7 linked regions of the Homo sapiens genome follow. The protein of the gene in region 1 interacts with the protein of each later gene in a pairwise test. Each region holds a gene or a part of one and is shown in the gene's direction. Other genes may lie near its edges. The genes, in order: CLEC10A, BET1, SLC38A7, APOD, SEC22A, PEX16 and ZDHHC15.

Evidence for each region.
Region 2: the proteins of CLEC10A (region 1) and BET1 interact in binary tests that used the Homo sapiens proteins (3 or more experiments, as listed by UniProt).
Region 3: the proteins of CLEC10A (region 1) and SLC38A7 interact in binary tests that used the Homo sapiens proteins (3 or more experiments, as listed by UniProt).
Region 4: the proteins of CLEC10A (region 1) and APOD interact in binary tests that used the Homo sapiens proteins (3 or more experiments, as listed by UniProt).
Region 5: the proteins of CLEC10A (region 1) and SEC22A interact in binary tests that used the Homo sapiens proteins (3 or more experiments, as listed by UniProt).
Region 6: the proteins of CLEC10A (region 1) and PEX16 interact in binary tests that used the Homo sapiens proteins (3 or more experiments, as listed by UniProt).
Region 7: the proteins of CLEC10A (region 1) and ZDHHC15 interact in binary tests that used the Homo sapiens proteins (3 or more experiments, as listed by UniProt).

Annotation. Positions count from the first base shown.
Region 1 is NC_000017.11:7,073,720-7,078,060, reverse strand, and holds the end of CLEC10A (C-type lectin domain family 10 member A), read left to right. Parts: coding exon 1-64; intron 65-1,073; coding exon 1,074-1,169; intron 1,170-1,256; coding exon 1,257-1,328; intron 1,329-1,908; coding exon of another isoform or gene 1,909-1,989; coding exon 1,990-2,076; coding exon of another isoform or gene 2,077-2,085; intron 2,086-2,175; coding exon 2,176-2,330; intron 2,331-2,594; coding exon 2,595-2,701; intron 2,702-2,838; coding exon 2,839-3,007; 3' UTR 3,008-3,524; downstream 3,525-4,341. UniProt on the Homo sapiens protein: C-type lectin receptor involved in recognition of N-acetylgalactosamine (GalNAc)-terminated glycans by myeloid antigen presenting cells (APCs).
Region 2 is NC_000007.14:93,993,749-93,998,374, reverse strand, and holds part of BET1 (BET1 homolog), read left to right. Parts: intron 1-2,053; coding exon 2,054-2,110; intron 2,111-3,989; coding exon 3,990-4,145; 3' UTR 4,146-4,464; coding exon of another isoform or gene 4,465-4,481; 3' UTR 4,482-4,626. UniProt on the Homo sapiens protein: Required for vesicular transport from the ER to the Golgi complex. Functions as a SNARE involved in the docking process of ER-derived vesicles with the cis-Golgi membrane.
Region 3 is NC_000016.10:58,677,809-58,682,434, reverse strand, and holds part of SLC38A7 (sodium-coupled neutral amino acid transporter 7), read left to right. Parts: intron 1-2,193; 5' UTR 2,194-2,308; coding exon 2,309-2,578; intron 2,579-3,540; coding exon 3,541-3,739; intron 3,740-3,960; coding exon 3,961-4,102; intron 4,103-4,626. UniProt on the Homo sapiens protein: Symporter that selectively cotransports sodium ions and amino acids, such as L-glutamine and L-asparagine from the lysosome into the cytoplasm and may participates in mTORC1 activation. The transport activity requires an acidic lysosomal lumen.
Region 4 is NC_000003.12:195,577,441-195,582,066, reverse strand, and holds part of APOD (apolipoprotein D precursor), read left to right. Parts: intron 1-2,571; 5' UTR 2,572-2,605; coding exon 2,606-2,728; intron 2,729-4,626. UniProt on the Homo sapiens protein: APOD occurs in the macromolecular complex with lecithin-cholesterol acyltransferase. It is probably involved in the transport and binding of bilin. Appears to be able to transport a variety of ligands in a number of different contexts.
Region 5 is NC_000003.12:123,217,817-123,222,442, forward strand, and holds part of SEC22A (vesicle-trafficking protein SEC22a), read left to right. Parts: intron 1-4,626. UniProt on the Homo sapiens protein: May be involved in vesicle transport between the ER and the Golgi complex.
Region 6 is NC_000011.10:45,911,260-45,915,242, reverse strand, and holds part of PEX16 (peroxisomal biogenesis factor 16), read left to right. Parts: intron 1-558; coding exon 559-639; intron 640-774; coding exon 775-927; intron 928-1,039; coding exon 1,040-1,112; intron 1,113-1,304; coding exon 1,305-1,424; intron 1,425-3,983. UniProt on the Homo sapiens protein: Required for peroxisome membrane biogenesis. May play a role in early stages of peroxisome assembly. Can recruit other peroxisomal proteins, such as PEX3 and PMP34, to de novo peroxisomes derived from the endoplasmic reticulum (ER).
Region 7 is NC_000023.11:75,370,135-75,373,815, reverse strand, and holds part of ZDHHC15 (palmitoyltransferase ZDHHC15), read left to right. Parts: intron 1-870; 3' UTR 871-3,681. UniProt on the Homo sapiens protein: Palmitoyltransferase that catalyzes the addition of palmitate onto various protein substrates.

The DNA of each region.
Region 1 (4,341 bases):
CTCCTGCTGTCCCTGGGCCTCGGCCTCCTGCTGCTGGTCATCATCTGTGTGGTTGGATTCCAAAGTGAGGGTCACAGGGGTGGACAGGGAAGAGAGAAATAATGGGGTAGAAGATAAATAATGGGGTGCTACAGTAGGGCAGTGGTGGGGCGATGGTGAGGTCCACAGTAGGAGCAATGCAGGGCACAGTGTTGGGGGCAGCTGTGGAGATAACAATGGGGCATGGTGAGGGCAGTGCTACCAACAGTCATGGGGGTCACAACAGAGCCACTGAAGCACTGATGGGGCACTGATGGAGTGATTGATGGGAATGGAGGAGAGGGCACTGATGGAGTGATTGATGGTAACGGTAGGGGGGCACTGATGGAGTGATTGATGGGGACGGTGGTGGGGGCACAGACGGAGTGATTTATGGGAATGGTGGGGGGCATTGATGGAGTGATTGATGGGAATGGTTGGGGGTCACTGATGGAGTCATTGATGGGAATGGTGGGGGGGCACTGATGGAGTGATTGATAGGAACGGTGGGGGGTCACTGATGGGGTGATTGATGGGAATGGTGGTGGGGGTCACTGATGGAGTGATTGTTGGGAATGGTGGGGGGCACTGATGCAGTGATCGATGGGAATGGTGATGGGAGCACTGATGGGGTGACTGATGGGAATAGTGGGGGGCACTGATGGAGTGATTGATGAGAACAGTGGTCGGAGCACTGATGGAGTGATTGATGGGAATGGTGATGGGGGCACTGATGGAGTGATTGATGGGAATGGTGGGGGGGCACTGATGGAGTGATTGATGGGGACGGTGGTGGGGGTAGTGATGGAGAGAGTTGACGGACCCATAGTCAGGATGGCTGCTGGCTTTGTCACTGAGTAGTTGGGTTATGTACTCAAATTACTTCACCTCTCTGAGGCTTAGTTTCCTCATCGGCAATATTGAACAATAATAGTGCCTGCCCCACTGGGTTGCCGTGAGGACCCAATAAGGCAATGCTTATGGAGGGCCCTGCTCGGTGCTGGTACAGAGGACCTGATGAATCCCAGCACTGACCTTCCCATCCACCTGTTTAGATTCCAAATTTCAGAGGGACCTGGTGACCCTGAGAACAGATTTTAGCAACTTCACCTCAAACACTGTGGCGGAGATCCAGGCACTGACTTCCCAGGGTGAGTCTGGTTTGGATGGGGCTCTGGGCTGGGGCCAGGCCAGGGAGGAGGAAGTTGACCCCTAAGCCAAGTCTCCGTGTCCTCCAGGCAGCAGCTTGGAAGAAACGATAGCATCTCTGAAAGCTGAGGTGGAGGGTTTCAAGCAGGAACGGCAGGCAGGTGAGAGACCCTCCGAGTATGGGTGTGGGGGGCTAGGCGCTCAGACACAGTGGAGGTGGGAACAGACTCCTGGTGCTGAACTGCCCTCCCCTTCAGCCAGCAGCTTGAAAGGCAGCATGCAGGCCGGGCGCAGTGGTTCACGCCTGTAATCCCAGCAGTTTGGGAGGCCGAGGCGGGTGGATCACGAGGTCAGGAGTTCGAGAGCAGCCTGATCGACATGGTGAAACCCCGTCTCTACTAAAAAAAATACAAAAAATAGCTGGGTGTGGTGGTGGGCGCCTGTAATCTCAGCTACTAGGGAGGCTGAGGCAGGAGAATTGCTTGAACACGGGAGGCGGAGGTAGCCGTGAGCCGAGATCGCGCCATTGCACTCCAGCCTGGGCAGCAAGAGTGAAACTCCGTCTCAAAAAAAAAAAAAAAAAAAAGAAAGAAAGAAAGAAAGGCAGCATGCTTTCTCTGGAGAGCAGGCTGGAGAAACAGGGGCAGAGGAATCCAAAGCAGATTTGATGGCTGTACCTGGCCATGATGTAGGGGGTGGGTGGGGGCGGGAAGGAACATTCCCTGGCTTGGCCCTGTGCAGGGGTATCTGAGCTCCAGGAACACACTACGCAGAAGGCACACCTAGGCCACTGTCCCCACTGCCCATCTGTGTGTGTCCCAGTTCATTCTGAAATGCTCCTGCGAGTCCAGCAGCTGGTGCAAGACCTGAAGAAACTGACCTGCCAGGTGGCTACTCTCAACAACAATGGTGAGGAAGGTATGGGGAGTACCTGGCCCTACTTTTCTGCCCATGGCCCACTGGGCAGAGCCTCAGCCTCTCCACCCTATCCTATTTCTCCCCAATCAGCCTCCACTGAAGGGACCTGCTGCCCTGTCAACTGGGTGGAGCACCAAGACAGCTGCTACTGGTTCTCTCACTCTGGGATGTCCTGGGCCGAGGCTGAGAAGTACTGCCAGCTGAAGAACGCCCACCTGGTGGTCATCAACTCCAGGGAGGAGCAGGTGAGGGCTTCTGGTACTCAGTTCCTAAGACATGTCCCATTTAGGGAAATGGTTCTTAAGCTTGGCCGCACATTGGAATCATCTGGGAGCTTCCAGAATGACTGTCATCTGTGCCACACCCTCAGAGATTTAATAGGCCTGAGCATCCAGAGAAACATCTCCAAACTCCTCAGTTGATTTAACGAAGAGCTAAAGTTGAGAATCACTAGTTTAAGGAGTTGGCTGGGATGGGAAGAAGTCACCACTGCCCTTCTGTCACCGCAGAATTTTGTCCAGAAATATCTAGGCTCCGCATACACCTGGATGGGCCTCAGTGACCCTGAAGGAGCCTGGAAGTGGGTGGATGGAACAGACTATGCGACCGGCTTCCAGTGAGTGCACCCTGGCTTTCTGTGCCAATGTCCTCCGTCAGCGTTTCCCCCAGGGATCTGACTGGCAGCCTCTCCTCCCCTGAACTGAATTCTACTCCATCTACCCTTCCTAGCTTGCTGTTGTCTTTTCCTCTCAGGAACTGGAAGCCAGGCCAGCCAGACGACTGGCAGGGGCACGGGCTGGGTGGAGGCGAGGACTGTGCTCACTTCCATCCAGACGGCAGGTGGAATGACGACGTCTGCCAGAGGCCCTACCACTGGGTCTGCGAGGCTGGCCTGGGTCAGACCAGCCAGGAGAGTCACTGAGCTGCCTTTGGTGGGACCACCCGGCCACAGAAATGGCGGTGGGAGGAGGACTCTTCTCACGACCTCCTCGCAAGACCGCTCTGGGAGAGAAATAAGCACTGGGAGATTGGAAGCACTGCTAACATTTTGAATTTTTTTCTCTTTAATTTTAAAAAGATGGTATAGTGTTCTTAAGCTTTTATTTTTTTTCCAACTTTTGAAAGTCAACTTCATGAAGGTATAATTTTTACATAATAAAAATGCACTCATTTAAAGAGTAGAGATGACTTTGACAAATATGCATGCCTAGGTGACTACCACTCCGATCGCAATAGATAACATTGCCATCGCCCCCACCAGTCCCCTCATGCCTCTGGGCAGTCCAACCACTTCCCTGTTTCCAGGCCAGTGATCTACTTCTTTTTCACTATTTATTGGCCTTGCCTCTTCTAGAGCTTCTAGAACTTCATATAAGTGAAATCATACACTCTCGTGTATATACTTCATATAAGTGAATATATACTCTCGTGAGAACTTACGTACTTTGTGTTGCTTGATTTTTGGCAATCTAAAAATGGCAGAGTGGAGAAGCCAGGTGAAGCCTTCGAAAGTCCTATGTGATTGAGAAAATAGCATTTTCTTCTCATATAGATTTGAGTTCAAATCTTTTCTGTCACTTAAAGATGGTATAAACTTAGGGTGATTAGGAAAAGCCATTGTTTAATTTCTCTGAAGATCCCAGAGTTGTTGGGAGATGTAGATAAGATCCCCAGGTGTATTGGTTAGCAATTGGTGTGTAACAAACCACCTCAAAGCTCAGGGCTTATACAGTAAGCATTTATTATAGCTCATGAGGCTATAGGTCTGGTCTGGCCAGGTTTGGGTCATCTTGGCTGGGCTTGTTTATGCGTCCGTGGTCAGCTGGTGGGTTGGCTTGGGGTTGGCTGGTCTAGGGTAGCCTTGCTCCCATGTCTCATATTTGGCTGGCTCTGGGCTGGGACAATGGGGATGACTGGGCCACATTAGCTTAGCCTGGCCTTGTTCACAGAATGGCTGGGTGGGGGTCCAAGAGAGAAATTGGAAGACTGCAAGGACTTCAGAGCCTTGCTTGGAACTGAAGCATCGTTTTTGCTGCATCCTATTGGCCAAAGCAGATTGCAAGGCTGCCCAGGTTCAAGGGCCAGAGAAATAGATTCCACATTTTGGTGGGGGGTTGGGGGGGGGTCTACAAAGTCATACTGTGTAGAGAATGGATATAGAGAGGGGTGGAGATTTCTGTTTTTTCAATCAATCCAGCATATACCAGGGAAGCATCTCAGCTATTTTGATTTTTTTTTTTTTTTTTTTTTTTGAGA
Region 2 (4,626 bases), on another chromosome or scaffold:
AACCTATCTGTTCCTGTTTTTTTGCACATTATGATCTGAGCTATATAATCATTGCCACAGTCCTCGTTTAGAATATTTTAAAACTTGCATCCTGCACTCCCAGAAGTCTTCAGCGTCCTTCCATGATTTAATAAAGTTCATGCTTCGTAGCTTGATTAAATCAGATAGATCTTTCAAAAATTGGCCTTAGCTTTTGAGATCTTATCTCTCACACTTCCAGAATCTGTATGTGCTTCCTGCTAGACAAATTACACTTTGTGTCCTCTGTATGCTGTCACTTTCCCACCCCCATATCACACTATCCCTTTGCCTTAAGCCTCCACTTCCTTCTTAGATCAACTGAAGTGCTGCTTATCCACATCCGCCCCACTTCATTGCACCCCCTCCCTCCAAACTTTTACCTGATTACCACATCCAAAAGTAACTTTTCTTCTTATGAACATAAGACCATTTGTGCCATTTCTGTAGCACTTATTCATAGTGATTTGCATTGGCATTATTTGTATGTAAAAGGAATTTACCAGAATGCAGGTTTTCTATTGTACTTACTTTATATTCTATATAGCACTTAGCATAATTCCTTATCAATGGTGTTGAGTAAATTTGTATTGAACCAAAGAATTACACGAAGATGATTTTAATAATATATGTGATTGATACTGCATTATAATGAACATGACGTTCACTTATAAAGCATTCAGTAGAAGCCCATGTTGATAAAACTTAATTGGTATTTCAATATAGTCTTTGGAAAATCGAATTACATTCAGTCTGGAGACCTTTAGATTTTGAAACAGGATTGTTTTCAAAGTCATATTAAACTAAAGTTGATTTATGAACTAAGTAATATTGTATAATGTTAATTTTAAAAATACAACACTTGGAAGGACTTAAGAATTAAATGCCTTTAAAAACCCCCCCAATGTAGATAATTTAGATTACTTGTTAGAAGAAAGTTGTGATGTCCTGGAAATATTTTTCCTTGGCATGAATGACAGTGATAGAAGTTGAGTAATGTGGGCAGTCTAGCTTTATAGTTACTTTATTATCTCTGAGTTGTTAAATCTGGGAGGAAAGCTCATGTTCTGATCTATAGAATTCTAGTATGGTTTTGTATCAGTATTATCCCATGTGCTTTCACACAGATGAAGAACAATATTTGCAGTGATTTACCAAGATTTTCAGTAGATGATTCTATTTATTTAAATATCTTGGAAGTGAAGCCTTTGATGAATCTGTCCTATAAAGTATTAGATAGATTTTGGTTTGAATAGTTGTCATAATTAGCTATAGTATTGTATTTTGTAAGCTATGGCTCTTTTCTTCAGAGCTTCAGGAAGTAAGTAACACTAATATTTATTTTTTTCAATTTATTATCATATTTTAAAGCAAAAACCTTTAAACTAAGGAAAAATCAGTTTAGACATATTTAAAGTAATGTAACATTTCATTAGGAAAATATTAAATACTTCTGTCTAGATTTGAATTGGTTGTATGGGTACTTCTAGATCTTTCAAAATGTAATAAGGTTGGGTACTAGGCTTAATTCTTGGTTGACGAAATAATCCGTACAACAAATCCATGTGACATGAGTTTAACTGTATAACAAACCTTCACCTGTACCCCCAAACCTAAAATAAGTTAAAATATATATATATAATTTATAAAATATAATAAATAAAATGTAAGAAGGAAATATACAGATATTTGTAGGAATTTGTAGCTTTTGTAGGAATATAATAAAGATATAAAAGCATACAAGGTTAAGAGAATCAGAGAGAAGTAGTACATACCAAATTAAAAGATGGAATTGAATATTAAGATGAAATTAAAATAAAGAGGAAAGAAGAAATGTCCATAATTGGGAGGAGTAGAAATTCCAAATTTATTTTTTATTGATCTTGGTAGAAAAAGTATCAGAAAAAGAGAGTTTATGTGTCTAGAAGACCGTTTCATTTCAGAAAATGTGTATGCTTAGAATGACATTATTTTTACTTTATAACACTTGAATACTTTTATGTGAGTAATCCTGTGTATACCTTCTTCTTTATAGCTTTCCATTGAAATAGGCCATGAAGTTAAAACCCAGAATAAATTATTAGCTGAAATGGTAAGTGGTTATGATTTTAACTTTAAGAAATTTGATCTAATATTCGCAAATAATAGAATTTCAACTTTTATTCATTTTGAAATACAGAGATCGTAAGTCCTTGATTCCCGTCCATTTGTATCTAATGTGTTTGGAATAACTATAAGGTTTATTTTGCCATGCTTTTGCATTTTTCATCTCGTCTTACGCATGTAAGTGGGAGGAACAAGTGGAAGCCAATATATCTTTAATCCTGTTTTTAGAATGATTGTTAAAAACAAGACAAATGACTATTTTGAGTAGTCTTAGAAGTCTCAATAGTAGAGACTACTAGTAATTTATTAACCAAGCAATCAAAAGGCACTTGATATCCAACCAACTAAATGTCGTTCACTTAATGGATACTTACTCTTTTGCTTGATTTCCTAAGGATCACTTATGAAAAAAGTGCTCATACATTTGAACAGCCCAGAGCCTTTTCTCTCTAACAACATATACCTTTTCTTGTTAGAGTCCCCTTCCATTTGTTAACGTTTATCTTGAATGTCAAGCTTCTCTGAACCTTCTCTGGTTCCATGTGCTTTTAAAATTGTGCTATTCAAAAATGAATTTGGCATCAAAAGCAATGTTCTTGCTAAGCTTGTGCGCTATAATAAGCTAGGGACCTCTTTAAAAATGTATATGCCTGATTCTGTCTTTAAATATACTGATTTAGAATTTCGTGAGGAGGGATCTAGATGTAAATATTTTGAAAAAAGCATCTCTGGTGATTCTGATGCATAACCATGAAAAAGCATCTCCGGTGATTCTGATGCATAACCATGGTGAAGATCCATAGATCTAAAGTATATGAGCCACATAGACACTGAGCTATACAAAGGATATTTATTATTATGCCAGGGCTTTTACATCTCAGGATATTATAATTTCTATGAAAGTATGTGTAATATTTCTAGTCCCTACCTAAGCCTCTCTCATCTTTAGGATTTTCCAGCTATGTTTTAATACGTTAGTTTTTCCCCATCCATATTTATAGTCCTTATCACATTTTACTACCTCTATATGATATTCTCTTAACTTAATAGACTCTACTTCAAAGTCAGCTGTCTAAACAAAAGGATATTAAAAGTAAAGGTCCAAGGCCTAGCATGGTAGCTCACGCCTATACTCCCAACATTTTGGGAGGATGAGGTGGGCGGATTACCTGAGGTCAGTAGTTCAAGACCACCCTGGCCAACATGGTGAAACCCCATCTCTACTAAAAATACAAAAAAATTAGCTGGGCGTGGTGGCGTGCGCCTGTAGTCCCAGCTACTTGGGAGGCTGAGGCAGGAGAATCACTTGAACCTGGGAGGCAGAGATTGCAGTGAGCTGAGATTGCACCACTGCACTCCAGCCTGGGCAACGAGCGAGACTCCGTCTCTAAATAAATAAATAAGTAAATAAAAGTACATTTAACTGCTAACCGTATTACATTTTGGATGAAATCCTCTACTTGGGTAGCAGTCAACCATTTGACCTTGGAGAGCAATGGCACAACAAAAAGTGGGGAAAAAAATCTGTGTGATAATGCACAAAGTACTTACATTTATTGTTAATTTTTTTTATCCACATAATTGGAATAACACCTAAATAGTTTTGAGTTGTTGAATTACTCTGTGGAGCTGAAAGAAGTGTTTATTGGACAATGAAAGAGCTTTTTATTCGCTGAGAGTATTACTGTATTTTGCATGGAGAAATCAGGCTGATTATCCAAGGTTATCAACAGGCTCCTGAATTGATTAAACACAAAACTGTCATTACAAATGTACTATGGTAACAGTTATTCAATTACTTGGATATGCATATGTAGACTCTTAGAATCTAACTGTGATATTTTATTTGCCTTTATCTCTGATAGGATTCACAATTTGATTCCACAACTGGATTTCTAGGTAAAACTATGGGCAAACTGAAGATTTTATCCAGAGGGAGCCAAACAAAGCTGCTGTGCTATATGATGCTGTTTTCTTTATTTGTCTTTTTTATCATTTATTGGATTATTAAACTGAGGTGATGCATGTAATTGTGAATTTGGAATTTGTTCCAACTTAATGGCTTGCAGTACCACTTTGATAAAAATCAGCATCAAAACATTCCTAGTGTTCAAATACTGTGGCATTTTCCATTGAAAATTGCTGAATTTTGCTTATTTTATAAATCACATTAGTTAATACAGTGGTCTTTGAATACTGTTTCTTAATGACTCATTTTAGCCCCTATTTTCAGGGGTAGTGAGAGGGTGTGGCTCCACTAATTTCCAGTTTGTTTTTCTATTGTTTGCCAACTGTCAGATTAAATAGCATTATAATATTTTGTTGTAATCATAAATGCAGGTTTATGTCCCATGTAAGGAAACTTAGTGGGAGAGTAACAGAATGCCTGGAGAGCCTGACTCTGAGCTCTTGAAGTAGTCAGCCAGTTTGTGGTAAAATGGTAATTGAATTTTCCTAACTGCATCAACTGTAATGATATACTCCCTTCTCCTCCTTTATTTA
Region 3 (4,626 bases), on another chromosome or scaffold:
TGGAGTTTTGTATGAGTACCGTGAAATCGGGACTCAGGAATGAGGAGACTCTAGGAGAAGGAGTCTTTGGCAGATTTCGCCAGCCTGGGTGGTAACCAGCTAATAGCAGCCTCTGGGGAAGACTGCCCTGGCTCCTCCCTGCCCCCTTAGTTCCTGCCCTTGAAATCTGGCCTTCTTCCTGCTCTTTCTCCCATTAGCTATCCCAGGGCCTCTGTGCCCATTGTTACCTGGCCAATAGCACCAGGCTGTGGTTTGAGTTTTGTTTGTTTGTTTGTTTTGAGATAGAGTCTCACTCTGTCGCCCAGACTGGAGTGCAGTGGCGTGATCTGGGCTCACTGCAAACTCTGTCTCCTAATTTCGGGCGATTCTCCTGCCTCAGCCTCCTGCACAGCTGGGATTACAGGGGTGCACCACCACACCTGGCTAATTTTTGTATTTTTAGTAGAGATGGGGTTTCACCATGTTGGCCAGGCTGGTCTCAAACTCCTGACCCCAGGTGATCTGCCCACCTCGACCTCTCAAAGTGCTGGAATTACAGATGTGAGCCACCACACCCGGCCCAGGCTCTGGTTTTGATCAGTGTTCTGCTCCCTGCTTGCTTAGGGCTGGAGAGTCTCAGGCATGGTGGTGGTGGGCAACATGGGAAGGGGCATCTGCAGAAATAACAGCAGCAGTGACCATTTATTGAGTCTTAAACCCTTACTGATATTAACACACGACCCACAGGAACATATGATGTAAAGGCCTAAAGGGGCGAAGTGACTTGCCCAGGGTCACACAGATAGGCAGCGGAGGAGTCAGCATTCTGACGGCAGAACCTACTCGGAGACCCAGATCACAGCCCTGCCCAGGGCTGCTCTTGATCTGGGGGTGGACTTGATGCTTTAGGACCATCATTTCTCTGCGGGTCTCAGGCTATGAGCTGAACCTTGAGAACACTGAAGATCCTTTTTCAGGGCTGGGCTCCTCAGAGCCTCTCGAGATTCTTGGAAGAAAAAAAACTGCATCTCAATTGTGTTTATCCAGAGAGCAAAGAGAATCAGTCAGGTGATAAGCCTGTTATCTGAGTTCTGCCATACCCAAGGTACCATCTTGGACCCAGGAGTGGGGCAGATACAAACAGATGGATGCCCTATGGTCAGACAGGCCTGGGTTTGAATCCCAGCTCCACCACTGACCGCCATATGACTGAGGGGAGAGTGGTTATCCCCTCTGGGATTCAGCTTCCTCTTTGGTAAAATGGTGACTGTCATGTCTACCTTTTAGGGCTGCATTGAGGATTGAATGAGAAAGCATTCCATAGCTGCAGCAATAGTGGTTTATAGTGACAAACAGCACTGCATGTTTGGCACTGATCATTGTAATCTAGCCCAGGAAAGCAAGCCTAGTGGCCAGTGAGATGCTAGCACATGAGAGAGTACTGAGAAGAAACCAGCTAGAGTGGTTCTGGGCCCCTACATGGCTCCAAGAAGAGCTCAGTGAGTGACCCAGGAAATGGGGAAGAAATAGGACCTAAAAGGGTGGCGGCAAAGGAGTTGGGAGCATTAGAAGCATGGGATGAATCACTGTTTTCCTGAAGACGCAAACATGACAGGCATGGGGGCTTGTCACATGAGAGAAGAGTCGAGAATTGGCCTGAATTTCGAAGGGCCTCGAAAGCCACAGAATTCAGACTCCAGGCCACCGGGAGGCGTGCTGGACTGTAATATGTTGAATCTCAGTTCTTGGTAAGGGGTCCTTTTGGGACCCTGTGGGGTGGAAACAGGCTGGGAAGCCAGACAGATCTGGATCCAAATCCTGCTATGCAACTTGCTAATATATGACCCTGGGTCAGTGATGGGATCTCTCCGAACCTTTTGACCACAAGACCATCCTAAGGATTGAATGAGATAAAGTATATCCATGACACACCTGCCCGATGCGGGGCCTCTATCGAGTGCTGATGTGTTAGTACCCATTTTATGTTGACATCTAACTGGTCCATTGAGTCTGTATGCCTGAAGCAAGCATGATTTGCACCTGATCTGTTTCTGTGTCTGTCTCCCCATACTCTGGCACCCAGTGCACTGTCTGCACAGAGGCATACCTGGGTTTGGACCCTACCCATGTGATCTTGGGAAAGTTATTACACCTTTTTGTCCCCTAGTTCCCCCATCTTAGGATAACAGTAGTGCCTGCCTTTGTCCCATCTAGGTTGAGAAGAGTCCTAAGCTAACAGCCCCAAACAGGTGGGTGTTGCTCAGCTCCCTGAGGCATGTGGTTGTAAGGCAGAACCCACAGACCTTGCAGGAAGAAGGCTCTCGGGGCCATGGCCCAGGTCAGCATCAACAATGACTACAGCGAGTGGGACTTGAGCACGGATGCCGGGGAGCGGGCTCGGCTGCTGCAGAGTCCCTGTGTGGACACAGCCCCCAAGAGTGAGTGGGAAGCCTCTCCTGGGGGTCTGGACAGAGGCACCACTTCCACACTTGGGGCCATCTTCATCGTCGTCAACGCGTGCCTGGGTGCAGGGTTACTCAACTTCCCAGCAGCCTTCAGCACTGCGGGGGGCGTGGCAGCAGGCATCGCACTGCAGATGGTGAGTGCACTGGCCGGGAGGGCAGAGGTGCAGTTCAGTTGGGCGCTTTGCCTCAAAAGGGAGGCTTCGGGTCAGGGATGGCCAGTAAGTGATACACGCACTGCTCTCCCCTCCCTCACACATGGCAGACATGACTAATCTATTCTAGTATTCTTTCCTGTGACCCAAATGAGGCTTCAGAAGCCTTCCAACAATCAGAGAAATTTGAACATCAATTACATCTCTAATTTTTTAGGTGTAACATTGATTTTGTGGTATGTTTAAAAAGAGGGCCCTTATCTTTTAGAACTACATACTGAAATATTTATTGATGAAATGATATGATAGCTTATATTGGCTTCACAATAAATGCAGAGTGGGAGGGAAGGGGAATGATGAAACAAGTTGGCCATGCATTGATCATTTTTGAAGCTGAGTGATGGATACATGCCAGTTCTTTTTACTATTCTCTTTACTTTTTTCTTTGAGATGGAGTCTTGCTTTGTCACCCAGGCTGGAGTGCAGTGGCCCGATCTCGGCTTACTGCAGCCTCTGCCTCCCAGTTTCAAGTGATTCTCCTGCCTCAGCCTCCCAAGTCGCTGGCATTACAGGCACCCACCACCATGCCCAGCTAATTTTTGTATTTTTAGTAGAGACGGGGTTTTACCATGTTGGCCAGGCTGGTCTCAAACTCCTGACTTCAAGTGATCCTCCTGCCTCAGCCTCCCAAAGTGCTGGGATTACAGGCATGAGCCATCGCATCCAGCCTATTCTCTTTACTTTTGTATGTTGGCAATTTTTCAAAAAACTTTTTGTTTTTAAAGAAAATCTCAACTCGGCATCCTCTAGCAGTCTCTTAAAATTGCCTTTGTGAGATTTGCCAAGCTTGCTTTGGGCACTGGCCCAGTAAATGCTAGGCGAGCCCAGGGTGCCCTCTGCTGCCAGGCCTTTGCCACAAGCTCTTGTTCTGCCTCTGCCTGCAGGGTATGCTGGTTTTCATCATCAGTGGCCTTGTCATCCTGGCCTACTGCTCCCAGGCCAGCAATGAGAGGACCTACCAGGAGGTGGTATGGGCTGTGTGTGGCAAGCTGACAGGTGTGCTATGTGAGGTGGCCATCGCTGTCTACACCTTTGGCACCTGCATTGCCTTCCTAATCATCATTGGCGACCAGCAGGACAAGAGTGAGCTTCTCCCTCAGTCCCTACCCCATCTCTTCTTATCAGCCCCAGGGATCCTGGGGTGGAGGGAAAAGGCACTGAACACCTCTCCAGGACTTACCTGGGCCCAGCATTCATCTGGGAATCCTCCCTCCAGGCAGAGGGAGGTCCTGGGGCCCAGCAGAGCAGGAGGGCCACACCCCATGGTGGCCTGGCTTGACATTCCCTCCTTCCTCCCTGTGCAGTTATAGCTGTGATGGCGAAAGAGCCGGAGGGGGCCAGCGGCCCTTGGTACACAGACCGCAAGTTCACCATCAGCCTCACTGCCTTCCTCTTCATCCTGCCCCTCTCCATCCCCAGGGAGATTGGTTTCCAGAAATATGCCAGGTTTGGAGGCCCCAGCCTGGGTCAGACAGAAGCTATGATCCTGGGCAGCTGTAGACCCAAGGGCTCCTGGGGAACCCTGCTCCTCCATGCCACCTCACCTTGGGGAGCAAGAGTAGGCAAGGCAGGGCAGACCGGGGCTTGCAGGGTTTCAGATAAGACCATCCTTTTCTGTCTCCATCATAGAAAAAGGATGCATCCATGAGAGATTCAGTTCTAAATGTCCTTTTGCATCCATGAGTAGTTCAGTTCTAAGTGCCCTTGTCAAAGAAGGAACAGGTGGTATCTGGGCGGTGAAGGCAGCCTCCTGGCATTCCCTGGGAGGAATTTGGGTCTTTGAGACTGTCAGCCTACCAGCATCTTACCTGCAGCTTGGCATGAAGGAAGGAGACTGGTTTCCTGTCTCGGTGTCTGAAAGGCTGTGGGATTCTAGGCTTCCCCGTCTGTAAGTGCAGGGGCCATGCTCCGCTCTCTCCAAGGCTCCCATAAATGTTGACACAAAAGTGTCTGTACTCTCAACCCTCTTA
Region 4 (4,626 bases), on another chromosome or scaffold:
TTACAGGCAGCATGGGATTACAGGCATGCACCACCATGCCCAGCTAATTTTTTTATTTTTAGTAGAGATAGGGTTTCTCCATGTTGGTCAGGCTGGTCTTGAACTCCCAACCTCAGGTGCTCCACCTGCCTCGGCCTCCCATGGGATTACAGGCTTGAGCCACCGCACCTGGCATCACAAGGAGTTTTAACCACAGGAATAAAACTAATGTAACCAAGAGGCATCTTTGGAAGAGGGTCAGTCAAAGGGGTTGTTCTGAAATCCTCCTACTGAGGTAAAGAATCTGTTTCAGCTCACAAGAGAGCATTTTGTCAGAGTAAGATGTAGAACTGACTTTTGTTGCAGTGTCATGTGGTGGTGAGACTCATCAGGTCACAGAGGTGGGGGGTTATTGAAAGGCCCTATGGCGGTGCACAGAAGAAGCAGATTCGGGGTGCTGCAGACAGGAGAGGGGGAGATGGAGCTCGAGTCCCAGCTCTCTGCCCCTTCCAGGCCCCAGCTTCCCCATCTGTACACCTTGGAAGTAGAGCTAGAAAGATGACCTCTAAGGTCCTATCCAGTGTGGGGACCTTGTGGAATGTGCATAGTGTGTGGCCAGTCTTTGAGGTTTGATCCTCTGGGCCAGGCTTTCAGCTTGGGCCTACTAAGTAGAATTCAAGATCTCTTTAAAATGGATGCAAATTTGTGTGGGTTTAGGCTGCATTTCTATAAATTCATCATCCCCCAAAAGGTTAAAAGACAGGTTTTGTTTATACAGTGGTGGAGCCGATGAGAAACGGAACCTCAGAGACCAGGGAAAGTGGCCCTGTGGCAGACTTGCTCAAAGGGGCCTCAGCAACCATCTCCCCCTGCAGCAACCCCAGCTGGCAAGCTGCCACTCCTTACATAACTGTTCTTTGGAAAACCAGGCAACAAAACCTCCAGGGGAAAAAAAGCTATTGATTATTAAAGGGTATTTAGAGGTTTAGAGACTCACAATAAAGCAGTTATAATTATTCCTGTAATGACACATCCTTCGAAATGCTCAGATCTGAGAACATTTTGCTTGCATTGCATCAGTCATCATCATTACAGGGAGAAATGCAGAGAGCTGGAAATAGCTCGTGTGCAAGCTACAGGCAAGGAGTCACAAGGAAAGGAGCAAATTGACAGCGAGTCAGTGAAGGAAACAGGGGAGCTTCCAATGCCCAGAACCTGCACACAGTCCTGCAGCCTCTGTCTCCCTGCCTTGCTGCCCCGCTTCAAAGCCAGCTTCTGCTGCCAAAGGACTCTTGGGGTTGAAATGCTTGTTGCACAGTTACACATCAGCTGACAGTCCTTCTCTGATTTAATGAACTTCATCTATGAAAAATACCCTCAACAGGCCGGGTGCGGTGGCTCAGGCCTGTAATCCCAGCACTTTGGGAGGCCAAGGCGGGTGGATCCCCTGAGGTCAGGAGTTTGAGACCAGCATGGCCAACATGGTGAAACCCTGTCTCTACTAAAAATACCAAAATTAGCCGGGAGTTGTGGTGGACACCTGTAATCCCAGCTACTCAGGAGTCTGAGGCAGGAGAATCACTTGAACCCGGGAGACAGAGGTTGCAGTGAGCCGAGATTGTGCCACTGCACTCCAGCCTGGGTGACAGAGTGAGACTCCATCTCAAAACAAAACAAAACAAAACAAAAACCCTCAACAGAATGTCAAAAAAAAAAAAAGAAGAAAGAAAGAAGAAAAGAAAAGAAAGAAGAAACCTGGGAAATACCATCATCTTTCTGCTTTTGATAATAACAATAACTAGCATTTATTGAGCATTTACTCTGTATCAGACACTCCTCTAAGTACTCTCTGTATATTATCTCATTTAATTCTCACAAAAATTCATGAGCTAGGAATGATAATTATTCCCATTTACTAGACAAAGAAGCTAAGGCATAAATTGGACACAGTTATACTTAGTATGGGGCAGAGTCACAATTTGAACCTGGCTGGGGTGACCCTGGAGCCCCCAGCAGGCCGCTCCCTGTTAAGGTTTCCAAGCGCACTCTTGGGCTGGTAGAACAGCCAGCAAGACGAGGGCAGGGGGAGGGATGGTGTCAGAGAGGCATCTCCCTGAAGAATCTCAGAGGACACTAAGTGTTGGGCAACATTTGGTTTGGTTTCGTGTCTTTCGTGGTTCACTTGGAGGCTTTAATCCCCCACTTTACATAGCCCTCTCCACGCTGTTTCTGTTCATTTGACAAGTATCTACTGAGCCGACACTTTGAGGTCCGTGGGTGATTCTGAGGAGAACTAGACACAGTGCCCATCCTGGGAGATGCATAATTAGGTGGGACAGGGGTGAAAATCAATCCAACAAACCAGAATACCAGGCAGAGAGCGCCCTCGTGGAGGTGCAGAGGCTCTGAGGAAGGCCTCACAGCAACAAGGACAGGCAGGTGTTCCCCTGCAGGATGAGGGTTCACATGGGCTGGGGAGAGAAGAGGAGGGACCGCCCACAGAGGGGACCATGGGCACAGCACTCTTACTTCATGATTGTGTGGCCTTAGAAGGCTCAGAATGACAACCCCAGCTGCTTTGCGTTCCCGCAGCTCCAGGTCCCTTCTCCAGCCACCCAGCCCCAAGATGGTGATGCTGCTGCTGCTGCTTTCCGCACTGGCTGGCCTCTTCGGTGCGGCAGAGGGACAAGCATTTCATCTTGGGAAGTGCCCCAATCCTCCGGTGCAGGAGAATTTTGACGTGAATAAGGTAAAAGGCGAACCTCCCGTTTGTTTTGCTGCCTCCGCTGTGAATAAGCGTTCTACAAGGTTCAATGTAATTATGCTGCTTTAATTTCCACTGCACACCTTGGGACAAGTATTTATCTTATTTGGGGTTTCCCCAAAGCAGACATCTGCTGAGATAAAGACTGCAGGCAGAGAGGTTTGGGATGATCCCGGGACGCACGAGAGCAGGTGGGAAGGTGAGTCGGAGACAGCACAGAAGCAATAAAGGGTGCGTTCCTGAGCTGTCGCCCTGGGCCGTCAGGGTCAGTCACACTGGGCACCCTCTGAGGACACGTGGAGCATGCCCCTCCGATTGTCCCACAGCTGCTGCCAGCAGGTCATGGGAGCATCCGTGGCTCTAGCTGAGCCCCCTGGCAGAGGAGAGACACAGGGTCTCAGGTGGGAGGCTGGCAGTGTCTGGGAATTGCCTACCGTGGCTGCGGTGAACTCAGAGGTGGGCTGAGGGGAACAGGACCAGGGAACCATAGTAGCTGCTACAGAGCTATTATCCTTGTTCTACAGATGCAGCATCGGAATCTCCCTCCCCAGCTCACGCAGCTGGTAAATGCAAGTAGGATTCAAAACCAGGCTTCTCAGCAGTGCAGGGCACCCAAAGGTCACTCAAACAGGGCTCAGGAAAGCCCAAAATTCTCCAGGGGGCTTTCTTGGTATCTGCACCAAAATGTCATCAATACAACGAGCTCCTCCATAGATGGTCTTTCTTCCTGGGGTTTAGCGGGAGGGGAAGGAAGAGGGCGGCAGAAAGAGGCAGCTATTGGAGGACAGGACTCACAGGCTCCCACTGTTGCTACTCAAGCCTGGAATCTCACCCTTAAGACTTCCTCTCCTTAGGAGAAGGTTTGGATCTCTTTTAAGAATGGCAACAGTAACATCGAAGTTGTTATCATACACTCGCACCTCAAGGTGAATGAGTGTTGGGACCTCTGAGGGGACGCTGGGTGGGAGAAGGAGCACCATCCATGGGATCAGGAGATACAGGTGTGGTAGGAAGAGGCCATAGAGTACACTAACGTCTACACTGACTTGCTCCACTTACAGGCTGATCCCTTTATTCAGGTAACTCTGATAGACCACAGAGAGGCTTTAAAGAAAACATCCAAGGAATCTGAGTTATACTTTCGCTTTTGGATACAAATCCCAAAGCACTTTGGAAATGATAACTGATCTGTATTTATAGAAGTCCTTTGAGAATTAAAGCAGGATTTAAAAAATAGCAGCTTTATTGAGATATAATTTGTATAGCACGTAATTCACTTGTTTAAAGTAGCTTTTCACTTTCCATTGTTGTTAGTATCATCACAGAGTTACGCAACCATCACCACCACCATCGATTTAGAACATTTCACTGTTCCGAAAAGGAACCTCATACCCATTCACGGAGTCTCCATCTCCCCTCCAACCCTTCCAGCCCCAGGCAACCACTAATCTACTTTCTGTCTCCGAATTTGCCTATTCTGCATATTTGATAAAAATGAAATCATACTATATGTGGTCTTTTGTGACTGGTTTACTGAACGTTTTCAAGGTTCATCCACGTTGTAGCATGTATCAATACTATATCCCCTTTTATTGCCAAATAATATTCTTGTAGGAAATCGTTATAGGAAATCAATTGACTGTATATGTGAGAGTTTATTTTTGCACTCTCAGTTCTATTGATCTATATGTCTATACTTATGCCAGTACCACACAGTGTTGATTACTATAGCTTTGTAGTAATCAAAGCCTTGAGGTAAGCTTTGAAATAAGAACACATGTGTCCTCCAACTTTGTTCTTCTGGTTATTCCGTGTCCCTTACATTTTTATATGAATTTTAGGATCAGCGTGTCAATTTCTGCAAATAATCCAATTGGAATTTG
Region 5 (4,626 bases), on another chromosome or scaffold:
TCCCCAGTAGTAGTATGGTAAGCTCCTGGCAGGCAGGGACTATATCTTTGACATCAGAGCCTATGAAGTAGAATGCTGGCCCTATGCTAGGTGTTCTGTCTGCTGAGAGGAAGATATTTGCTATTACTAATTATTTAGTTTGGTGCAACAGGCCAGAATTGTCCTAATAATGTCAGTGTTTAATTGGTGATATGTAAAATTTCTTCGACAGTTTGTAAATCAAATTAGATACTAGAAAAAAGTTTAATGTGTAAAACCATTTATTCATTTTGTTGAACATAGGAATCACTTGTGGAATGGCTTGGACACATTATAGAATTAGCTTTTTAGCAAAGTGATTAGAAGGGGTAAATCTCCTATGTCTGGTATTTGGACTTCTGCCAGTCTTACCTGTTAGGTTATACTTGACCCTAAAGAAGTTCCTAGTGGGTGTGCCAGGGAGGAGAACCAAAAATATAATGAAATTGGATAAATTCCTCAGGTAAAAGAAAAGCAGTACCAGTAAAGACCAAACCCCACTGGCACCAAAGCCCAGAAATGGAATGGAGCTAAACAATATAAAGGAAATTAGAGCAAAGTAGGAAAAAACCTTGGCAATTTAAAAATTGTGCCCAAGATAGAGAAAAGAGGAGAGAGTGTGTGTTTGTATGTGTGTCTGTCTGTGTGTGAGTAATGACAGTGATAAAGGGAGAGCAGACAAGTCTTTGAGACCTGCATAGCCATTCTCGGGGTACTCACTGTGAAGGTGAGTAATTCTACCTGGCTCTTGAGAACATCCCTCTCTTAAGGACATGTCGAAGATTCACTGACCTGAACCCTCAATAAAGCCTTCTGGAGAACAGTAACTAGAAGACAAGTGAAGTTCTACTCTCTTCTGTCATTTAGTCAAGTATTTATTGAGCTGCTGCTTTGTGTAGATACTACTAAGCTGTACAATTACTGGTGCATGATATACTCAACAAATTAGTGTATAAATGAGTAAAGGAATGATGCCACCTTTGCACTCATTTATTTACTGAGCACTTATGGTATACTAGACACAAAATATTCTAAGTGCTAAGAATATAATGGTGAGCAATACAGAAATCATCCCTGCTCTCATGGAGTGTGTATATTAGTGAGAGAGACATTGCAACAAAAATATATTAATATACAATTACAAATTGGGTTAGTTTGTGAAGAAAACTAACAGCTGCTATGATATACTGTAGGAGTGGGATCAGTTTAGATTGTGTGTTCTGGGAAGGACTTTCAGTCTAAGAACTGAAGGATATGTAGGAATTAGCCAGTTCAGAATTGGAGCATTGCAAGTGGGGAAGACAAAATCATGAAGTTTCTCAGTTTGGAAGTGGGAGGGCTGGAAGTGGGTTGGCATCCTTGGGGATCTGAAATAAGGCCAGTGGGTGGCTGGAATGTAGAGAGGGAGGAGTAAAGATGTACAAAATGAAGTGGAGTGTTTGGGAGGGCTTCCAGAAGATAACTGTAATACAGGTTCCAAAACTCAGAAGTTTCATTACTCTTAATTTCGGGAATAAAATAGAGATTGATTTGTGGCTTGGAAAAAGTGAAAAAACATTGGTGAATTAGGGATAATTGGTTAATCTATACTACATGGAAGTTGGTATTGTATTGTGGAAAGAATGTGGGCCTTGGAATCAACTAACTTCATCCTATCTTTGCTTCTTAATGGTGTGTGACCTTGGATAAGTTACTAAGCCTCTCTGAGTTTCTTTTCTTTCATTTGTAAAATGGAGATAATAGTGCCCCTTTATTGAGAGAATGAAACTAAATATGTAAAATACTTAGCAAAGGGCCTAGCTCATACTAAGCGGTCAGTAAACTACGTGGTGCTATTACTCTTACTACTATTTCTCTTCTTTCTCCTCAAGGCAGATAGACATCCGCCAGATTGTCTATAAAATATTAGCTAGGTGAACCTGATGAACACAGCAAAAGCATGCACAAACTGGCATGCCTGTAATGACTTTAGACTATTTTATGAGTAGTCCTCAGTGAAGTGGTGGGAGTATTTCAATCTGTCCCATGATTGTTGAAAAAGCAGAATTTTTTTCATCACAAACATAAATGGAACTGTATATACTTTGGGAAAACTAGCTTTGCATTTCAAATAAAGCATTATAAAACTAAATTTACTATGAAAAGCCATAATGTTATAGAACACACTATAGCCTTTTCAGAGAGAATCTTGCAACTGTAGTAAAATAAAGACTCCCTGAAAATGCTCACATGCCATGTTAAAGACATAGGGTTTCCTTTATTTCACATACAATTGTCTAGTTACATTTAGCACAAGTAAGATAGACCATTTGGGATAAACTGTCATGTAGGTGTCTGTGGCTGACTCTGTTATTAATATGGAAATACAGTAAGACTCTGACATAATACAAAAAATGGGTTCCAAAAACTTCAGTCATATTAATGGAGGATAATCAAATAACTCCTAGCTAGCCAATTGGGAGTTCCTAGGATGTGGAAGCCAATTACCAATTGTCTTCAGGTTATTGAGGTTATTATGGGGTATATTTGAATGCTAATGACATGTCAAAGAACTTTGATAATGACAGTGAAGATTTTTTTTGGAAAGAAAATCATTTGACAAAGCATATTTTGACCTTTGATTTAGATATTAATTTGTAGAAAAAGGCAATATGCTATGGCTAAATTAATTTGATTATGATCCTTAAGAGATACATTTTACTTTGTGAATGCTGTATATACACATATAGGAAACTAAAAAGTTTTATGAAACAATATTCCAATATTTTCTGTTATATTTTATTTCAATTTCTGGAAAATGCTGTAGTTCACTAAACTAGTTTTATGACATAGTGGTTTACAACTTGCACTTTGAAAAACATTGCACTAAATGACTGTGTATTAAGTGATGCTTCAGAAAGGAACAACCAGGTTACTCTAGAACCATAAGATCAGCACTATTTCACCACTAGTATATCCCATACCACTAGTAATAGACGACTAGTAGGTGGCAAGCCCATTTGGCTGCCTAGGATGGTCTTTAAAAAAGGTCTCATATATATATATACATATATATATATATATGTCACATGTATATATTCACACACATATTTACTTACAAGCTCTCACAGGAAGGATACATAAGAAATTATTACTAACCTGAATTGCCCAAGGGAAGGAGAACTGGGTATCTGGGCAAGAGTGATAAGACACTTTAAGTGCAGTATACCCTTTTATTTTTCATTCTTGTTAAATTTGAATCCTGTGAACATATTTATTCTAAACATTAATAAATTCTGCTTCTATGTTATTCGAGAAAGAAAATAGTAAGGTGACCAGTATGGATCAGAATTTTACAGTAAAAATTACTGTGTAGGCCGGGCGTGGTGACTTAGACCTGTAATCCCACCACTTTGGGAGGCCAAGGTGGGCAGATCACTTGAGGTCAGGAATTTGAGACCACCCTGGTCAACATGGTAAAACCCCATCTCTACTAAAAATATAAAAATTAGCCAGGTGTGGTGGTGTGTGCCTGTAATCCCAGCTACTCAGGAGGCTGAGACAGGAGAATCGCTTGAACCCGGGAGGCGGAGGTTGCAGTGAGCCGAGATTGTGCCACTGCACTCCAGCCTGGGTGACAGAGCAAGAGTCCATCTCAAAAAAAAAAAAAAAAAAAAAAAAGATTACTGTGTAGTTTAGCAGAGTCCAGCATAGGAGTGGTGAATTACATCCTGCATGCTGTTTACTGCCCCTGATCTAGACCAGCTATATTGACAGTGCTATGCAATGATGTTTAGGTGACTCATTAAAAAGGGTTACTTTGTGTTTTGTGCTCTGCTTATTTATTATAGTGGGGTATATACTAGATTCTAGAAAGCTTTTTTTCCAATAGAATATGGTTAATTTTCATGTTTCAGTGCTTATTTTTTCATTTTTAATTTCTGAATTTATTTAGAAGTAATTTCAAACTTACAGAAAAGTTGTATGAATAAGAAAAGTTCAAATAACACCTGTTCCCATAGTCACCTTTGGTCAACATTTTACCACATTTGTTTTCTCATTTTATCTACCTACCTACTTAACTATCTGATTTATTTTTTTTTTCCTGAACCATTTGAGAGAAACTTATAAATACCATGCCCCTTTCTTCATAACTACTTCAGAGTATATTTTCTAAAATTAGGGATATTCTCTTACTTAACCACAGTACACATATCAGCCTCAGTAAATTTAATGTTCCTACCATACTTTATCTACTCTACTGCCAACTTTCCTTTTTTTGTCGGTTGACCCAGGAATATGCTTTATAGCATTTTTTTTTTTTTATTGCTTTTTGGCACAGGATTTGGACTAGTGTTAGGTATTGTATTTAGTCGTCATATCTCTTTAGCTTCTTTTTTTTTAGACAGAGTCTCTCTCTTGTCACCCAGGCTGGAGTGCAATGGCGCAATCTCGGCTCTTTGCAACCTCCACCTCCTGGGTTCAAACGATTCTCCTGCCTCAGCCTCCTGAATAGCTGGGATTACAGGCATGCACCACCATGCCCAGTTAATTTTTGTATTTTTAGTAGAGACGGGGTTTCACCATGTTGGCCAGGCTGGTCTCAAGTTCCTGACCTCAGATGATCCG
Region 6 (3,983 bases), on another chromosome or scaffold:
TAGCCTGCAGGAAGAGGGAACAGATGGGATGCCGCCAACCTCGACTCTGAGCCTGGTTCTGTGTCCAGAACCATAGCCTCTAGAGGCAGGAGGCAGGGCACGCACCACATCTGTCCCTTCAGGGCTTTGGGCCCATCCCGTCAGCTTCTGGGCCTCACTCTCTGGACATTGAGTTGGGGCCGTTCATTGCCTCTCATCATGATTGTTTTGAAGGCAAAGGATTGAGAGGAGACGGCCCCTCTGGTGCTGTGGTCTCCATAGATGTGGTCAGGCTGGGCCTTCCCTGCCTTGCCTGTCCATGGGTTCCGGGAGGCTGGCTCTGGCCACAGCTATGCTGAGCTTTCCCCAGGCTAGGGAGGGCTGCAGAGTGCTTTCCTCTGTGGACGGGTCTTGTGCTGAGCCGCCACCCTGCTTGTAGTTCCCTTGACTCAGCTGTTGCCATAGTACAAGCTCATCTGTTCTCCCCTTAGCTCCTGAGCATTCACTGCACACGTTCTTTGCAGGCTCCGCTGGAAGCATGTCCCTCTGACTGTATGGCCTTCTGTCTATCCCTGCTAGATGGTGACCACAGCCCTGGCAACCATGAGCAGTCCTACGTGGGGAAGCGGTCAAACCGGGTGGTGCGAACCCTCCAGAACAGTAAGTGGAGGATGTGGCTGGCCTGGGCACCTAGGTGCTGTCTGCCTGGGCTTGAGGGACTGGCTTTGGTCAGCAGCCACCTTCCCCTGCCCCAGCCTGGGCCTGGCTCGCTCATCTGCCGCCCTTGTGTTCTAGCGCCGTCCCTGCACTCCAGGCACTGGGGAGCTCCCCAGCAGCGGGAGGGACGGCAGCAGCAGCATCACGAGGAGCTGAGTGCGACCCCCACCCCCCTGGGGCTGCAGGAGACCATCGCAGAGTTTTTGTACATTGCCCGGCCGCTGCTGCACTGTATCCTTAGCGCGGGGCAGGATAGGGCTGGCACTGTGGGCTGGGGATTGAGTGGGGAGTGTGCTGAGCAAGGCCCCTGTGCTGGAGACATCCTTGACGCCTTGGCCGTCAGTGCTCAGCCTGGGCCTGTGGGGTCAGAGGTCGTGGAAACCCTGGCTCTTGGCTGGTGTTGTGGACGTGACCAGGTGAGCCTGGGCCTGCCTGGGGCTTCACTCTCCACTGGGCTTTCTGCTATAATCCTGGCCTCACATAGGCGGGGTGGCAGCGGCCCCTGCTCCTCCTGTTGCTGCCCCTCTGGACACCCAGCCCATGGCTCCTCCCCTTCCGTGGGCCTAGATCATGCCCCTGGCCCTGACCATGTCCTCCCTGCCTCCCAGCCTGAGCCTCCTGAGTGACAGAAAGGGCCTGACCCGGAGGGAGCGGCGGGAGCTGCGGCGCCGGACCATCCTGCTGCTCTACTACCTGCTGCGCTCTCCTTTCTATGACCGCTTCTCCGAGTAAGCACCCAGGACACCCTGAGCCAGGGAGAGGGCTGGCAAGCGGGCACTGGTGCTCCGGTCCCTGCTGGCGCCTTCCCTTCCCCACGCCTCATCCAGGGTTCACCAAGCACTGTGTGTTGTCCGGGTGGCAGTCACCAGATGCCAGCCCAGTCCCGCCCGCAGAGCTCTCTGGGCCATCAGGCCACTTGAGCAGGAACTTAAACATTGGTTGGCAGGAGAGGCACTGAGGGCAGGGCTGAGGGCATTGCCAGGTGGCCCACAGGGATGGCGACAGGGCGGGCGCCCATGGCCTCTAGCTCATTTCCACTTCTTCCTGCCAAATAGTTTGGCTTATCCTCACTTCTCAGAGGAGGACCTGGAGGTTCAAGGAGGTTGGGCAACTTAAAGACACCCAGCTAGCCAGTGGTAGAGCTAGATCCCAAACCCAGGATCTCCCCTGGCCTTCCCTGCCTGGCCCAGCCCCCACTCAGTCACCTGCGAGGGTCCAGAGCTCCCAGCCTGAGAGAGGCCTGCTGGGTTGAGCAGGGGGCAGCTTGGGACTAGTTCTTCCACAGGCCTGCCACTATGACTGCTTGAGGTTAGACCACAGTCTGACAGGGGGAAACCCTGTGCAGTGGCTGGGACTGTGAGGCAGACAAGGCTCCCGGGACCCCCTTTGTCTAGGACCTAATAATAGCTTAAAAACTGGCATAGGCTGGGCAGCAGTGGCTCACACCTATAATCCTAGCACTTTAGGAGGCCAAGGCAGGAGGTTGGCTTGAGGCCAGGAGTTCGAGACCAGCCTGGGCAACCCAATTCTACAAAAAAAAAAAAAAAATAATAATAATTAGCCAGACATGGTGGTGTGCGCCTGTAAGTCCTAGCTACTCAGGAAGCTGAGGCATGAGGATCAGGCCAGGAGGCTGAGGCTGCAGTGAGTTATGATCACTCCATCCCACTCTAGCCTGGGTGACAGAGTAAGTCCCTGTCTCAAAAAAACAAAACAGAAAAAAAAAAACAAAACTGGCATAGTTTAGCCAGGCACGATGCCTCACACCTGTAATCCCAACACTTTGGGAGGCCGAGGCGGGCGGATCACAAGGTCGGGAGGTAGAGACCATCCTGGCTAACATGGTGAAACCCTGTCTTTACTAAAAATACAAAAATTAGCCAGGTGTGATGGCACACGCCTGTAGTCCCAGCTATTCAGGAGGCTGAGGCAGGAGAATCGCTTGAACCCAGGAGGCAGAGGTTGCAGTGAGTCGAGATCGCGCGACTGCACTCCAGTCTGGGTGACAGAGCGAGACACTGTCTTTTTTTGTTTGTTTGTTTTTGAGATGGAGTCTGGCTCTGTTGCCTGCCTAGGCTGGAGTGTAGTGGTGCAATCTTGGCTCACTGCAAGCTCTGCCTCCCGGGTTCATGCCATTCTCCTGTCTCAACTCCTGAGTAGCTGGGACTATAGGCGCCCATTACCATGCCTGGCTAATTTTTTTTGATTTTTTAGTAGAGATGGGGTTTCACCGTGTTAACCAGGATGGTCTCGATCTCCTGACCTCGTGATCCGCCTGCCTCGGCCTCCCAAAGTTCTGGGATTACAGGCGTGAGCCACCGCGCCTGGCCTGACCCATCTTTTTTTTAAAACAGAAAAAAGAGTAAGGCTGCTCCTTCTGGACCACACCCTGGCACCTCTCTGGACCCTGCTCCCTGTCCTTTAGGGAAACAAAGGCCCGCCTTGGCCTCCTAAAGTGCTGGGATTATAGGTGGAGCCACTGCACCCAGCCAGCCTTCTTCTTTTCTTTTCTTTTGTTTTTTGGGACGGAGTTTCACTCACGTTGCCCAGGCTGGAGTGCAATGGCGTGATCTCGGCTCACCGCAACCTCTGCCTCCCGGGTTCAAGCAATTCTCCTGCCTCAGCTTCCCAAGTAGCTGGGATTACAGGTGCGCGCCACCACGCCCGGCTAATTTTGTATTTTTTAGTAGAGATGGGGTTTCTCCATGTTGGTCAGGCTCGTCTCGAACTCCTGACCACAATTGATCTGCCCGCCTTGGCCTCCCAAAGCGCTGGGATTATAGGCATGAGCCACCACACCCGGCCCCCAGGCTTCCTCTTTTCTTGCTGCTCAGACAGACATATAAGGAGTCAGGCCGCCTTCCAGATGTGTAGCCTTGGGCAAGTTATTTGATGCGCCTGTGCCTCATTTCCTCACCTGTAAGATGGGGATGATGACAGTACCCACTTTGTAGGGGTTCAGTGACTAACGCGTACAGCAGTGCGTGGGGTGTAGTAAGCACGTAGCGCTATGTATTGTCATCAGCATCCTCATCTCACCCGAGTTCCCCTGTGGAAAACCCTCCTGTCTTAAAAATCAGGGCCTTGGGCCTTGCCCCTTCCCCTGAACCAAAATGTGCCCTCTTCAGTACTGTGTCCCCTACCAAGGTCCTGACTACTCTCATTGGTGGCTTGTGAGGTTTCCATGCAGCCCAGCACTTCTGCCAGACTGGGGGGCTTCCCGAGGGCAGGGTGGGGTTGTCCTCCCTGGACCCTCCACCATACTGCCAGGGCGCTGCTCCACATGC
Region 7 (3,681 bases), on another chromosome or scaffold:
TAACACAAAGGATAAATGCTTGAGGTGATGGATACCTCATTTACCAAAATGTGATGATTATGCATTGCATGCATGTATCAAAATATCTCATGTAATACATAAATATATATATACCTACTATGTACCCATAAAAATTAAAAATAAAAATAAATTTAATAAGATATGTTATCCAATTTTCCATCATCATAATGTTGTGAATAATATCACTAAACATAAATCTTTCTCCTCATTTATAATCATTTCCATAGGATAGAATCCTGGAAGCAAAATTACTGGTATGAATTTTTTAAAGGGTCAATGGATAAGGCCAAATCATTTTCCGGAAAGCTTAAACAAATAGCTACTTGAGGGCCTACTATATGCCAGATATTGTTTCAGGAAGATTATATTATACCAGTTTTACAGATGAGTAAACTAGGATCCATTGACATTATTTTTCTAGAGTTATGGAGATAAGAGGCAAAGCTAGAATTCAGCTTCATAATTGCCCAATTTCAAAGCTCTTGTTATTTCCATGTGGATTTCAAAAATAGTATTTTTGAAGTATCAAATTATATATTTACTAAAGAAAATGTGGAAAATGCAAGTAGAAGGTAGAGAAATGAAAACAAATTACCCATGAATCCACCACTTTCAATAGTTCAGTGTATTTCCTCAGTCTCTTATTCCAAATGTAATTTTGGGGGTCAAAAATATAGCATTGTATATATAATTTTATATCCTGCCTTTTTCACTTAACATTTTTCAGTGCTGATCTATACTCTTCATAAATGTAATTTTAATGGTTGCATATTATTGTCAAGTGGGTGTTACCACATGAATATTTACAGTTGTTCAGCTCATCTGTGAATTTCTTCTCTTCATTCCCAGGACTCACCATCTCTGCCTCCCATGAGGCTTACAGAGTTCAATGTTGGAAATCATTGTAATCTTCAAAATAAGTCACCGTGTTGGATTGAAAGCTTCAAAATTTGAAAGAATTCCATCAAATACTTGCTGTGTAAATGTTTCTGGACTTTATGTTATTTAATTTACTGACTGAAATCCAATTTGGAATTTGGTAGCAGTTAATTCAAGCCAATTTTTTTTGTTTCTTCATTTCCCCTCCCCCAATCCATGAAAGCCTAAATGTAAAATATATCTTTTCATTCATCTTATCAGGTAAAAGGAAATTCAGAAAATTTCCTTAGAGTCTTTAATTCCCCCACAAAGATTATTAATCACATATATAGGGCCTTTTTGGTGTTGAAGGGAATCAAACTACATTTGCTGCTTGTGTGCGTGTGCATTTGTGAACACGTACAGCATATCTATACAAAATTCTGCTATAGTGTGAAAATCAGGGCTAAAAACCTGAAGCCTTTGTTTAATTATGCTTTTCCTCTAAATAGCAACTTAAATATTTGCTAGACTTTGAATCATCGCTATATCAAGTATCTAAAATTTGGGAGGGTGAATCAGTACACTGTGACCAAGGTCCTCAAATTGGAATTTGAACAACAATGTAAAACCTGTTCTGTCACAAATGTTCCTGAAAGCACCACAGCTACTCAAGAAGATCAAATTCAGGACATAAACTTTATTGAACATAATAACCAGTGTTTTTTAAAGACTTTTTTGTCAGGGTGCAGTAAAATTCTCCAATTACTTTTATTCATTTATCTGCTTCCTAGTTTTATTTTAGCCTTTATGAGTTATTTTATGATGAAAGAAAATCTATAAGCCTAAGTTATGGCCCATAGGTTTTGTTAAGGGTTTTCAGAGTGATTTTCAGGTTTAATTTCACTGCCTTTCATAAGGGTAAAGTTTCACAGCTGACATTAGCCTGAGGATTAGCACTAAAGAGCTGTGTTTTCATAGCAGGGGCTATTGTACAGACAGTGATAACCAAATAGTAATATGCCAGTTCTTTCTTCTTTTTTTAGCTTCAGTAGTAGCTAAGCCATTAATACAGTTTGCATCAATTTCCCCATTTATTTATAATCAGCCTTTCTTTTAGTCCTAGTGCCTGAATCAATGAGTGAGAATACTAGTACTGATTCTTTACAATAATAATATCTTAAGAGTATTGATATCTTTCATTTTTTCATCCAGCAGTCTAGTGCCCAGCTGCTGACAATAAAAGCTCCAACTCTTTTAGAGATCAGTGGAATTTAGAAGCATCTTACAGGTATCAAGGAATTGAGCTTCTAGAGGGATGGTTTGGCTTACTAATTTATCTTCCCTGAAATATGTTTGAGTAAAAAAGAGTTGCCTGCCACAATTTAGTGTTGGGGTTCCAGTGGAGCTGAGAAAGTGAACAATCCAGCTACTTAAAGCAACAACAAAACCTGTTCATCTGGATCCCTAGGTAATTTTGACCAAGGTGAGACTTTTGGCATAAATTAAATGGATTGTGGTCAGCATTACATTTGAGAGAATACTAGACATGACTACACTTATTAGGGCTAGTGACTTTCTCAAACTCAGAAGCTAAAAAGCAGCCTAGATGACTATGCACACACTGGGTTTCAAGATGAAATCTTCTTATATATTCAGATGGAAAAAAATTTCCCCTTACACTCTTTCTCAAAATACTCTCATTTCGGTTTTTCCTGAAACCTTATTTGGCCATTCCCATGGTTTTATGACAGACAAGCCTTGTCTTCTATTCATATAGATATGCACCTTTTTCTACATGTATGGCCTTTACTTACTACACAGCAAGTAGGCCTCAAAGTAATCTTCCTCTTTCCCATCAATCATCTTCTGCCAAGCATTCAGGCAGAGCAGCTGTTAACTGTGATTCAAAGTCAGAAAAACATCAAGAACTTCTTTGATGCATAGGGTGTATCAGCACTCAGCTCCCACAGAAGTCAAGTCACAAAATATAGTGTCAGTTAACTATAAGGAAGTTCCGGAGAGGTAAAGCTCAGGAAAGATGTAATGCAAAGCTGATTGTTTAATGTCTTACAGATTTACACTGTCTTTAAAAGGCCAAATAAGGCTGGGCGCAGTGGCTCACACCTGTAATCCCAACATTTTGGGAGCCCAAGGCGGCCGGACCACCTGAGGTCGGGAGTTCAAGACCAGCCTGACCAACATGGAGAAACCCTGTCTCTACTAAAAATACAAAAATTAGCCAGGAGTGTTGGTGCATGACTGTAATCCCAGCTACTCAGGAGGCTGAGGCAGGAGAATCGCTTGAACCTGGGAGGTAGAGGTTGTGGTGAGCTGAGATCGTGCCATTGCACTCCGGCCTGGGCAATAAGAGTGAAACTCTGTCTCAAAAAAAAAAAAAAAAAAAAAAAAAGCCAAATAAATCAGGGTTTTACCAGGGGCTCAGAGATAAAAAGAAAACCTATTCCTATCTTAGCATTTTGGTCTCATTGGTTTATAGACTCTGATAATATCCCTATCCATGGATCATTTGAGTATTGACTAATGTACATAGGTACCCAACTGGTTGATTATTAATCAAGAATACAGAACTTTATTTAATAATTAGCACACCCTGATCTGGCTTCTTTGCTTGCTTTTCTTTGGATCCCTGTCCAATAACCTCTGTGGAATCTCATTCCCTAATTGTTGATACTCATTTTCTCCGTTTGCAAAATGAAGATACTCATTGTTAGGATCCTACTGCTGAAGGGTGCTATGTCACTTTCTAGTGCTCTTATATGTCTTTAATTATAGGACTGG